3 separate regions of the Homo sapiens genome follow, and regions 2 and 3 are each linked to region 1. The links come from fine-mapping of genetic effects on gene expression. A gene starts in region 1. Each other region holds a variant in brackets. All regions are shown on one strand. Distances are from middle to middle.

Region 1 (4,248 bases):
AGCTGGCAGCCAGCACCACTTTGTGAGCCCGAAAAGCTTGTCCTTGCACATTGACCACAATATCACAGAGACGGCCCTGCATGCGCAACTGGTTTAGATGGCTCAGGACAGAGTTGCTGAAGTCAGGAATCTCCAATTGTATGTTCCCACCTTTCTCCATGGTCGTGCCTGAGGGTGCATTCAACCCTGCTGAAAAAAGAAACCATATTCTCATTAATAATTATAATTTTACTTCCCGGATGGTTTCCATTTCAAAAGTATTTAAACATAGTTATCTGGTAAAGTTTCAAAATCTCCAGATAAAAGAAATACCTTCCTTATATTTAGATGTGGAAACAGAATCACCAACAGGTTTTTCAGTTTAAGTTTCACAGGAGGACATAGTTAAAACTAAAAAGTGATCTTTAGACTCCTAAAAATTCATGTTATGACCATGCTTTCCTTACTAATAAGTTATATAACATCAAAACAGAAGTTCAACAGAAGGTAGGGGGAAGGACTTTTAAGTGTTAACTATAAGGTACTTGCAGACTGAATATAACATCTCATAACTTTACAACTTTTCTCTGGAGGAGGAAAGCTTTCTGAATAAATGCAATTCTACATAGCTTGATATCCCTCTTCTTAGTATTTTACTACCTGCTGCAAGAATTATGTTTATTATTTTATAAAAGGACTAATATCCCACATGAATGTAGGCTAATATTTCTAAGCTTAAGAATCAGAGCCCCCCCCACAAAAAGACTTTGGTTATAGGGCTGTGAAGCAAACTCTAGGAAAAATCCCACAGCTGTGCCAGGATTCAACCAAGATGCAGAGAATGTGAAGTTCAGTTGTCAAAATTAGGAAAGCTGGGTAAATCTGCCAAATTCGAAGTTGGCAATTCCGAGGTGGTGATGAATACTTCCATCCTGAAACTTAGTTCTCCAGATCCGATGAAAAAATACAGCATTTACCAAGTATGCCAACATTTTTCCATTAAAATATTTTTAAAAAATGGCTGAAACACTAAACCTGAAGCTGTATACAAGATAGTTGAAAGTACAGTTTCAACTACTGAAAATAGTTTGTATAAATCCGAACAGGAAGACATTTACTTAAGCCCAATGTGCGTTCACTTATCTATATATTACATAGTTACACCACACCTGAAACTTCAGGAACTTACTCTGCCAAGCTCACAGTACTGCCCCGCATTAACAACACACTTATTAAATAGGGAAGTGTATACACTGTTTTCAACAATCAACTTTAGCCAATCTGACCTTTTTCCAAAGCGTTATTGTTTGTTTTGAAACTTTTAATCCAATAAGAGCCTCTGTCGATGCCATCATGAATTCAGATGTGTTTATTTTGGAGCCTACACCAGCGCCTTTTTTGTTTGCTCTTTCCGGCAATTCCCCAGTGAGGAAGCCCCTGGAGGAAAGTCTTTCGCTACCGTCGGCACTGGAGGGGTGAGAGCTGTAAAAGGGAGAATTGGGAACGGCATGGGGTTGGCCACTCCAGCACTTGAGCAGCTTTCTTCTGCGTTAGGAAGCCTGGGGAGAGGGGAACTGGCTAAAGGGCAAAATGTCACTGAGGAACTTCGGAGAAGATGGGGACAAGGCGTCGGGCGGGGGAGCCAGCGCTCAGGTGAGAACTAGGAAGGGGGCGGCGCCCAGGGACCGGCTCCAGGCGGCGGCGGGCGGGGAGCTGCCAGGAGGTGGGTGTGCGTATCTGGGTGTGTCCCGGCTGCGGTGGGGGAGGGGGCCGCCCTTCCCGGGGTCCTGAGGGAGGGGCCCCGCGAGGGGGCGGGTCCGGCAGATCAGCCCGGCCGGGGGCCAAGGGGGTGGAAGGTCGCCCGGTGCCTGGAGGCGGGGTGAAGGAAAGTAGCTGAGCGCCCCAGGAGCGCGCTGCGGCGGAGGGCGGGCGAGGTGACCCCGGTGCAGGGAAGTGGCACTGGGGTGTGGGGCCCGAGTCCAGTCAAGGAGCAGCACCTACCTCCGGGGGTGGAAATGGGCCGGAATGGGCCGGAACACCGTCCCGGAAGTGAAATCCCCCACCCCCTCCCACGGAGCGGGCGACGTGCCGGAAGGAAATCACTCAGCCTTACACCGCCCCCCCTTCCCCCATCCCCAGAGCTTTCCTTGCCTCGCGCCCCCTCCCCTCTCTGCTCTTCCTCCTCAGTCGGGAGGAGGGCGGGAGCACGGCATCACGTGGACGGTCATGTCTCTGCCCACAATGGCGAGGAAGGGCGGGGAAAAGGGGCGGACTTAAGGGGTGGGAAGAAGGTGATACTGGATGAGAGGAAGATTGAGGGAGGTTAGGGGGAGGAGCCGAAGCGGACGCTGCCGGGAGCGTGCGTCGTGACGTCATCAAAAGAACTCTTATATACAGGAGCCCAGGCACCATACTGTCTTTTCGAGGTAGGAGTCGACTCCTGTGAGGTATGTTTTATCTTTGCGAATGTTGCGGGTTTTGGGGCGCTCCAGCCTTTGTCTGCTAAGGTCACCCTGAATTGACTGGGACTTCTAAGCCAGTCGCGCGCCTTTGCAGGGCCTACAAGTTGAGGATGGTGGGGGATTGCACATATGGTGCATGCGTGACCTAAGCTGCGACTATGTTAGAGTAGAACTGCGGAGAAGCCTCGGCTCTCGTGCCCTGCCTCTGATGAAGCCTGTGTTGGTAGGGACATCTGAGAGTAATGATGAATGCCAACCGCTCTGATGGTGGCACATGCCGAGTCACCCGAGTAAGCTATTGTTAAGGGCCGTGACCCGAGCCTCCATCAGCCGTCCGCTCTCATGAAAGGCTGTCGGTGGTAGTCCACGTGCTTAAGTGCCTGCATTCCGCAGTGTCACCAATATTTCCATTAGTGTTTCTTTTTTCTTTTTTGAGACCGAGCCTCGTTCTGTCACCCAGGCTGGAATGCAGTGGCTCGACATCGGTTAATGGCAACCTCCGCGTCCCGAGTTAAGCAGTTCTGCCTCAGCCTCCCAAGTAACTGGGACTACAGGCGCGCGCCACCATGCTAGGCTTTTATATTTTTAGTAGAGACGGGGTTTCACCATGTTGGCGAGACTGGTCTTGAACTCCTGACCTCAGGTGATCCACCAGCCGTGGTCCCCCAACATACTGGGATTACAAGCCGTGAGCCACCGCGCCCGGCCGCCATCGGTGGTTCTTAACTGCGGGTGCAGTGCTTCTTTGTAACATTAAGTGTATCCTTTACCTGTCGCTAGATAATGAATGGTATGTTACCTGCATCATTGGTTTAAAAAGACGAACCGTTTTTTTAAAGAACACTCTTTAAAAAAAAGAACCGTGGAACAATGAATTAAAATCTGTACCTGATCTCTTTAGGTATGGTGCTGGGTGCAGATGCAGTGTGGCTCTGGATAGCACCTTATGGACAGGTAAGAATTGGGGAAAGTATGGTGGGAAGAATGAAATCTAAGAGGTGGTCTCAGCCTGTGATGCTTTAAGAGTAGTGGACAGAAGGGATTTCTGAAATTCTATTCTGAGGCTTTAATGTTAACAGCATTTATATTTAACGTGACTGCTGTGAGGTTCATTCTCACTGTTTTGCTTGCATCTTTTTGTTTTCTAGTTGTGTCCCCAAGGAAGGATGAGAATAGCTACTGAAGTAAGTTGAAAATTCCCTCTCAAAAAGGTTTAAAGCCATTGGATGTGCCACAATGATGACAGTTTATTTGCTACTCTTGAGTGCTAGAATGATGAGGATCTTAACCACCATTATCTTAACTGAGGCACCCAAAATGGTGAGTTGGGGAACATAGAGAGTACACCTAAGTTCACATGAAGTTGTTTCTTCCCAGGTCCTAAAGAGCAAGCCTAACTCAAGCCATTGGCACACAGGTGAGACACCTCTATTTTGTACTTCTCACTTTTAAGGGATTAGAAAATAGCCAAAGCAATGATGATTATCTATGTTAGTGCTTCTCTCCCCTCTTTTCAAATGAGAATTTTGCTCTCATATTGATACTAAGTTTAATACTGAAGAAAATGTGAAAACAGATACTATGATGGTTGCATAGTTCAGCAGATTTAATCATGAAGAGATGTACTATCTGTCTGATGTATCTGGGGTAGTTGTGGTTTGCTGTTAATGGTTAAGCAGTGTACCACCAATCTACCATTAAAATATTTTTTGCTGACAATTTTGTATTAAAATTACAGGCATTAGACAGAAAGCTGGAAGTTGAAATGGTAAGTGAAACTGTATCCAAGTAAGCAGGTAACTGGGCA
Region 2 (4,248 bases), 520 kb before region 1:
TCTGATAGTGTATTTAATTATAAGAATTCTGACTTTATTCATGTTTTGCTTTTTTAAAAGAATGATCTAGCTATTTAAGAGTAAGTTCAAAATCTTTTCAAACACGTTTAAAATTTCACTGAGCATATATACTGTATCCTCACTTTAAAAAATATTTCCCCAAAGCACAAAGTGTAGGACTCCACATGACAGGTGCTTTACCTACATAAATCACAAAAATGTCTATATGTAAATGCCTACCTATTTTTCCCGACACTTAGGAAATTTCTAAATCGAATGTTTCAAAAAGAAATTTGAGCACAATTAAAAATATTTGACAATCCTCGTATAAAAGACATAGTAGTTTATACTTCTGTAGTTTACACAAATGTTACCCTTTTCATATCATGACATAATTATAATAATGGCCCAAATAAAAAAAATTTGAATTGTAAAAAATCCAACAAGTTTTCTAAAGGTCTAAGAATCAATTATGTTAGTTTTTTAAAACAGTTCCCTCAGATCTTTAAATAATTTCCTAAAGTCCATTAATAAAAATATTATTAGAAATATTTTATTTCTGAAAAAAATGTACACTGAATTTCAGCTGAGCAACCCTGTCATTTCTACCTCAGAAGTCTTTTCCCATTTGGAGCCTCATCTCTGTACATAGGGTCAGTGAGTCTGGTATAAATATCATCAACCCATGCAATTACTTCCCAATTTGTTTCTCTGTTAATCAATGTTCTTCCTACTCCAATATTACCTTCCAAAAAAAAAAAAGAAAAACCCAATGGGAGTCTCAGCTTAAAGAAATTTGTTAGATATTGTCTTTATTGAAGTTGGGCAGTGGGCACATGAGACTTCATTGTATTATTTTATTTCTGTGTACATTCAAAAATTTCCATTAGGTCTACAATGCTTACAGAAGGATTTATTGATAATATCACAATTTTCTGTTTAAAGGTCTGCATGCCTCTATAACATGGTAAACCTTGAGGGTAGAAACTATCCTTACTCATCTTTAAATCAGCAGTGTCTGTTAAAGTCCCCAAGAAAGAATAGATGATTAAGACTTAAAAGTTGAATGAATGAATGAATGAAGTGACTTGTTTTACAGGAAAAAAAGTGGTCAAGAAATGTGAAACAGCCTCAGTGTTTCAGTTACTTTGTTAAATAATCTCTTATGAGTATGCATTCCCACCTACATTGATTATAAACCTCAAAGGTAGAAACTATGTTGTTTTCTATGTAACTCTAAGAGTCTAAGATGATGCCTCATAAATTTATATTGAAGCAAGTAATAAATCTTGCATTTTAGAAACTGAGTGGAGATCTCTATTTGACTGTTTATTTAGTCATCAAAATATTTTGTTTTCTTACCCACCATACTGCCATTCTCATAATCTCTCTTTAAAATCATGACTAGAAGCTTCAAGTACTGCCTGGGCCAGGGTTATCGATTTTCCTAGTTTATTCACTTACTCACTAGAACTTCTACATGCTCTTATAAAAACTAATCTAGGCCGGTGCGGTGGCTCACACCTGTAATCCCAGCACTTTGGGAGGCCAAGGCAGGCAGATCATGAGGTCAGGAGTTCAAGACCAGCCCGGCCAACATGGTGAAACTCCGTCTCTACTAAAGATACAAAAAATTAGCCAGGCGTGGTGGCCCATACCTGTAATCCCAGCTACCCAGGAGGCTGAGGCAGGAGAATCACTTGAACCCAGGAGGTGGAGGTTGCAGTGAGCCGAGATCGCCCCATTGCACTCCAGCCTGGGCAACAAGAGTGAAACTCCATCTCAAAAAAAAAAAAGAAAACACAAACACACACAAACACACACACACACACACCCTGTTCTGGCTCTAAAACCAGAGTGGTTTAGATTCAGAAACTGGCTCTGTCATTTACTTGATATGATCATGGGCAAATTACTTATTGGCTGTGAGATCTTGAGCAAGTTACTTAGTTGCTGCCATTTTGTTTTCTGTATTTTTACACTAGCTACCTAATATAGCTATGCCTCAGTTCTCTCACCTCTAAAATGAAGATATAATAATACCTACCTCAGAGAGCTGCTGCAACAATTAAATTAACACATGGAGAGTGCTTAGAACAGAACCTGGCACATAGTAAGTACACTGAACTGTCAGTTATTACCTCTGTAGCCATGCCTCACCTTTCCTTCCGTTACAATGAGCTATCTCTGCTCCCAAATTCAACCCCTCCACTAGTCAACATATACATCTTTTCTTGCCTATTCATCAAATTATCCTACAATTATGTCCTCTTTCTCTGACACTATCAAATTTTCTGTTACATCCTTTCTAACAACATACAAACATGCTATATTGCCCATTTTAATAAAAAA[C/AC]TCTCAACCCACATCCACTTACTAATGTGTCCTCGTTTCCTATCATCCTTTTATAGCAAAACTATTTTTAAGAGCTATCTATATCTGCTGATTTCCAATCCAGCTGGGCTTTCATTCCTGCCTCTCCATTGAAACTGTTCTTAAGATCACCAGTGACACCTAAATTGTTGAATCCAGTGGAATTCTAGGCTTCATCAGACTTCACCTATCAGCACTTGACTACTGTGTCATTCTTGATAGACTTAGTTTACTGGATTTCTATCTTGATTCTCCTCCCACCTCACTGGTTGTACTTTCTTGGGCTCCTTTGCCTGATCCTCCTCATACGTCCAACTCCCAAACACTGGAGTGGTCGAGGGTGCAGTCTTTGGATGATGTCTTCGGATGATGTCTTCATCTAAACTCACTCCGTAAGTAATCTCGCCCATTTCATTCTAACAGCTTTAAAAACCATCTATATACTGATGACTCCCAAACTCATATTTCCTTCCCTATCTTTTCCTTGAACTCAATGTTACATGAAATTGATTAATGGACATAGTCACTTGGATGTCTTAAATGCATCTCAACATCTCCAAAATCTTGATTTTATCCTCCAAATCTCTCTTCTATATTTGAGTAAACAGCAAGTCTTCTAGTAGCTCAAGCCAAAAACTCTGACATCAGTGGCCAGTTATTTATTTTTCTCAGGCCACACAGAAAAGAGAAGCAAATACAGTCAGTACTCTCTTAAAATATATCCAGAATCCGATCACATGTCACCCTCTGCTACCAGCCTAGTGCAACATGTAATTATCTCTCCCCTGGATTATTTACAATAGCATTCTCCTAATCTGCCTGCTTCCACCTTTGTTCCCTTATAATCCATTTTTCACTGGGCAGTCAGAATGATGTTTTTAAAATGGCTAAATCAAAATATCTCACCATGACATGATCAAGACACAAATTAGTCAAGTAACATTCCCAGGGTTCAAGATGAAGCCAGATATAAGATAAATAAATCTATGTATAACCTAATAGAGAATATTACAACTTAGATTTCTTAAAACACTATATAAGACAAGATAATTAATTACCAAATATAGATATATAAAATGTTCATAAAATTGGACAGAAATCTGTAGTGGTAAGAGATATTTCATCAAAAAATTCAGTCAATAAATATGAATTGAGCACCTACTATACTCTAGAAACTGCAGGAGATGTCTCTAAAACAACAGTGACTTTAAGGAGGTCATGTGCACTTGACATAACTTTGCAGGATAAGAAGAGAGAAGTTAGTTAAGACAGAGTTACCTATAATAAATATTACAAAATAAAGAGAGAAAAATGGATATGCAAGGTATAATGAAGGCACTGTTCTGACAAGAGAAAAGAACACACTTCAAATAGCCATCTATGTATAAGACATAAATTTCTTTTTTTTTTTCCTTTTTTTCCTTTTTTTTGGTTTAGTGACACTATTCTTGCTTCAGCACCTACTGCAGTTAAAACTCAGGGCTTTTTTTTCTTTTTTGTCATTTATTTAAGGCACAATTTATACAGAGTAAAATTCACATTTTTAGTATACAATTCTGTGAGATTTGACAAATGCACATAGGTTTGTGAGCACTACCATAACCAAGATACAGGATAGTTCCCTCATTCCCCCCATACCCAAATTCCCTGGACCCTCTTGTAGTCAATACCACCAGTCCTTAACAACTACTGACATGCTTCCTATGATGATAGTTTTGACTTTTCCAGAATTTCATACAAATGGAATAACATAGTATTAAGTCACTTGACTTTGGCATAGGTCACTTAACATGATGCACTTGAGATCCATCAGTTGTAATGTATATCAGTTCATTCTTTTAATTGCTCAGTAGCATTCCATACAATGAATATACCACA
Region 3 (4,248 bases), 350 kb before region 1:
TTAAATAAAATTATAAAACAATATATTCTCAACATAAACATTTAGTAATCTCATTTTCAGAATATATTTTATTAGACTGATATATTAATACACTTTTGATGCCATAGTTAATACTAAATAAAAGTCATAAGTAATATATAGCACTTTTAACTACTTTTCCTATTCCTGTTTCTAGAAGACAGTTATACCATTTTCAAGCCTATATAACTGAGTTTACTTGCTTCCTTTTCTTTGACTTAGAAAGTGCAACACAGAAGTGAAAAAGGGACCATATCTAAATAAAAACTCAAATGCTAAAAATATAAGATATGCTTTAAAAACATTTAGACAAGTCGACTGTTAAATCACACAACGGAACGTTACCAGCTGATTTAAAACATAAAAATCATAAAGAAAAAAGTCTCTCAAGTGAAAGCAAAACATTTAATTAACTTCTAAAACCCAGCAGTAAGAGAAACAAAAACATCCAGATAAAGTAATGTAAAATTTAACCATTATGTCTAATTCACCAAAAAATCCTTTCTCTTCTTTTTCTTCTTTTATTCTTCCCCCTAAAATTCCAAATCAAAAGGTAAACAACCAAAAGCAAGAACTTTTTAAAATACACAAACCAAATAATTAGGGTCTGGATAAATCAAACATTGATTTTATTTTGAAAGTCAGCACTTGAGAAAAACCTTTGCATTTTACACATCTCCTAAGTTTCAAATAGTTTTTAATTAAAAATTATACCATATGTAGAAAAGAAAAAAATACCTTCAGTTGAGGTTTTTCTTCATGTTTTGTAGAATTATCATCTGCATACTGAGGAACCAAAACAAATTCTTCACTGTTCATTGTAGCCACAGAATCAGATGATCCACTAACCTTCTGTAATGAAGCTCTGACCTCCATTTCAGTTCTGCAAACTTCTCTTCCCACAACCACCTGGAAAAACAAAAGGGATTAAAAAAAAAAACCTACTGATTAAAAACATGAACTAATTAAAAACATGAACTAATAAAGCTTTAAAAATGGTTTATGTGAAGAAGAATCCTGCTGGCTAGATAATTATCTCAAAGTTAGGGAGGCTACCTTCTTGGACTGAGCCACTTAATGGAAATGTACTCTCTCTTCATCCTAAGTTTCCAGACTAATAGAGCCATATTGTTACCTAAAAATTTACACAAACCAGTCCATATCTCAACCAGATTTATCACTGTTTACCTGACACACTCACTCTCATTTCTCTTAGAAATACTGTTTTCTTTTTAATAGAGGAAATAATTAAATGATACTAGAAATACCTACAAATGCACACACAGACACAAAACCATATTCACTGACACTGCTATATTAATTAAATCTAAATGCTTCAAAAAAAAACTTATCTCCTCAAGACCGAATATTGTACCTGCAAATATTTTTTCTGAGTAACTAAAGTTGACTAATACAGAATTCAACATCCTAAGACATATAGCTTCTCTTTCCTGACACATTATCACTTATTAACACCAAAAAGAAAAAGAAAAAAGCTTCTATATTGCCTTCACGTAGCAAATAATGTTTCAGTAATCAAACACAGTGTAATTCTGTTTTCTGGATAGATCTCTACAGCATAGAAACAACACTCACTATCATATCCAGAAGTTCATGTACTCACACAACTAAGTTTAACTGCAGACATACACTATATAACAGACACAACTCAGCCCTGAGGTTACCTAAGTGAATAAGGAAAACAAGTAGCCTGCACTTCTGGGGCTTACATACTAGTAAGAAAACAAATAAAAAGGGAGCAAATGGTGATTCCAAGTCACTCTAAAGGCTATGCAAACAATAAACACGTTAATGTGACAAACAGTAGCTATGGGAAGTATACGGACAAATTAAGGTGGTAGGAAAAAGCTCTCTGAGAGGAAAATATCTGAGCCTAAACCTGAAAGACAAAAAAGAACCCTACTATTACACAATCTGCTCAGTGACCAAATGAGTAATGTGATAGAGGGGCAGGACAAGCAGGCTAGGGCTAAAGAACACGGGACCTTGTAAGCCATAGTAAGTCTACTGATCCATGCCTAAAATCCCCCCAGAAATGTTATTTTTCTTTCTAATTAGGTTACCTTTTCATTATAGCCTATAAGTATAGCTGCAATATTCCATTTTGCCATTAGGTGACACTAACACCATTACTCTTGGCAATAAAAAGAATGA[G/A]TCTAGCTTCAAGTTACATGTGTATCTTTTAAAAAGTAATTACTTTCCAACTTTATAAAAAATCAAAAATTTCAAGAATATCAAAATAAAGAATAACCATACTCCTGGACCAGTGTAATTAGCTAGCCATCATTTATTTCTGTTATGCATGTTAACACCCTTCCTTTTTAAAACCCAAGCGACATTCATCTGTCCTCTGAAGGTTTTTTTCTCACTTTGTATATTTTGTTTCTAAAAATGCAGAATGTGTTACAAGCCAGGTCTTTACTCTTCCAGACTGCACGATGAATCCTTAACTGCCAACACACCACATATTCCAGATGTCTTTCTGTGGTCAATCCTTCAAGTCCTTCTCAGGTTGCTGCTCCTCTACCTGATTTCTAAATGTTAGAAATTCCCTGAGTTCAGATCCTGACCTTTTCCCTTGTCACACACTCTAAGTAATGTCTGTCATTGTCATGGACGAAAATACCATCTGCAGGCTAACAGTCTTCCAAATTTCTATCCCAACTCAAATACCTTCTCTAAATTCCTGCCCTGAAATTCACCTCTCTACTTGATATTTCCATGTGGAAGTCTTATCGTATCTTAAATGAAACATGACCAAAATGGAATTCCTAATGTCTCCTCCAAACTTGTTTCCAGTCCCGATTTGCCATTTCAGTAAATAACACCACTATCTTCTACAAAGTTACTTGAACACGAAACCTGGATATCATCCTTGATTCACCTCCACTTCTTTACTCCTCACATCAGCAAGTCATGTCAGACCCACTTCCAAAATAAGACTCACATCTATCCATTTTTCTGTCTACTACTACTACCACTCTAGTCCAAACAATGCTCTTATCTACTGTAAAAGCCTCCTAACCCATCTTCTATTTCCAGTCTTCTTCCCTCAATCTACGTCATTGTTCACAAAGCTGCCAATTTATTTAATTTTTTTTCGGAAAATAAATTAGATTACATGAAAACTCCAGACCAAAACCTTTTCACTAAAATTTAAATAAAATTCAAACTGCTTCCCAAGACTTACAAGGCCCAATACACCCTTGCCCCCATCACTTTCTCATTATAATTCCTTAATCACACAAGTTCCAAAACAAGCAAAAACCAAGAAAAATCATTGCCAGCATATCTGGCTTGAAAGAAAGATTAAAAGTAGTTCTTCAGACAGAAAGAAAATTATATAGGTCAAAAATGTGGATCTATGTGATAAAAGGAAGAATAAATGTATTGGATGATTATACCACATGGACAAAAAAAAAAAACATGACAGCAATGGCAAAAAAAAAAAGGGGAGGGGGAGAGAGGGAGGAATTGGAAATATCCTGTTACAAGGTAATGGCACTACTTGTACATGGGTTACATGCAGTATAAAATTATTTAAAAAATTACTTTTTTACTCCTTTATTTTTAATTTTTGTGGGTACATGTGTATATATTAATGTGTTATGTGAGATACTTTTACATAGGCATGAAATGCATAATAATCACATCAGGGCAAATGGAGTATCCATCACCTCAAGCATTTATCCTTTGTGTTAGAAGCAATTCAATTATTCTCTTAGTTATTTTTAAATGTCCAATTAAATTGACTACATTCACCCTGCTGTGCTAGCAGATACTAGGTTTTATTCATTCTTTCTAATTATTTTTTCATACCTATTAACCATCCCCATGTCCCTTACCCATCCCACCTTCCCACTACCCTTTTCAGCTTCTGGTAATCATTGTTCTAATTCTCTATCTACATGAGTTCAATTATTCCAATTTTTAGCAATCAGAAATAAGTGAGAATGTGTGAACTTTGTCTTTCTGTGCCTGTTCACTTAACCTAATGACATCTGCTTTCATCCATGTTGCTGCAAAATGACAGGATCTCCTTCTTCTTTATGGCTGAATAGTACTCCACTGTATATGTATACATTTTCTTTATCTGTTGATGGACACTTAACGTTGCTTCCAAATCTTGGCTGCTGTGAGTAGTGCTGCAATAAACAAGGGAGTGCAGATATCTCTTCTTCGGAGTATATACCTAGCAGTGGGATTGGT

What was found. PIP is the estimated chance that this variant, and not a neighbour inherited with it, causes the effect. A credible set is the group of variants that fine-mapping cannot tell apart.
Region 2: its variant is the best candidate, but not a certain one, in a credible set for the expression of GAS5 in whole blood (TOPMed, PIP 0.63).
Region 3: its variant is the best candidate, but not a certain one, in a credible set for the expression of GAS5 in esophagus muscle (GTEx, PIP 0.64).

Annotation. Positions count from the first base shown.
Region 1 is chr1:173,866,138-173,870,385 of GRCh38, reverse strand. GAS5 (growth arrest specific 5) reads left to right here and starts at 2,397. Exons shown (of 12, transcript NR_002578.4): 1 at 2,397-2,426; 2 at 3,343-3,395; 3 at 3,590-3,625; 4 at 3,819-3,858; 5 at 4,180-4,209. ZBTB37 (zinc finger and BTB domain containing 37) reads right to left here and starts at 2,006. Exons shown (of 5, transcript NM_001122770.3): 1 at 1,981-2,006; 2 at 1,266-1,461; 3 at 1-186. The coding sequence starts at 160. SNORD77 (small nucleolar RNA, C/D box 77) reads left to right here and starts at 4,016; the gene lies at 4,016-4,085. SNORD76 (small nucleolar RNA, C/D box 76) reads left to right here and starts at 3,671; the gene lies at 3,671-3,751. It also overlaps SNORD75, SNORD74 and SNORA103. RefSeq lists enhancers at 114-213, 728-1,927 and a silencer at 1,562-1,971.
Region 2 is chr1:174,384,061-174,388,308 of GRCh38, reverse strand. All of the region lies in intron 12 of RABGAP1L (RAB GTPase activating protein 1 like), which reads right to left. Among named protein-coding and RNA genes, the nearest start is that of GPR52, 62 kb to the left of the region's middle. The variant C/AC (reference allele first, on the strand shown) is at 2,353.
Region 3 is chr1:174,215,804-174,220,051 of GRCh38, reverse strand. It overlaps RABGAP1L (RAB GTPase activating protein 1 like), which reads right to left. Exons shown (of 26, transcript NM_001366446.1): 2 at 757-927. The coding sequence starts at 894. Among named protein-coding and RNA genes, the nearest start is that of RABGAP1L, 58 kb to the right of the region's middle. The variant G/A (reference allele first, on the strand shown) is at 2,194.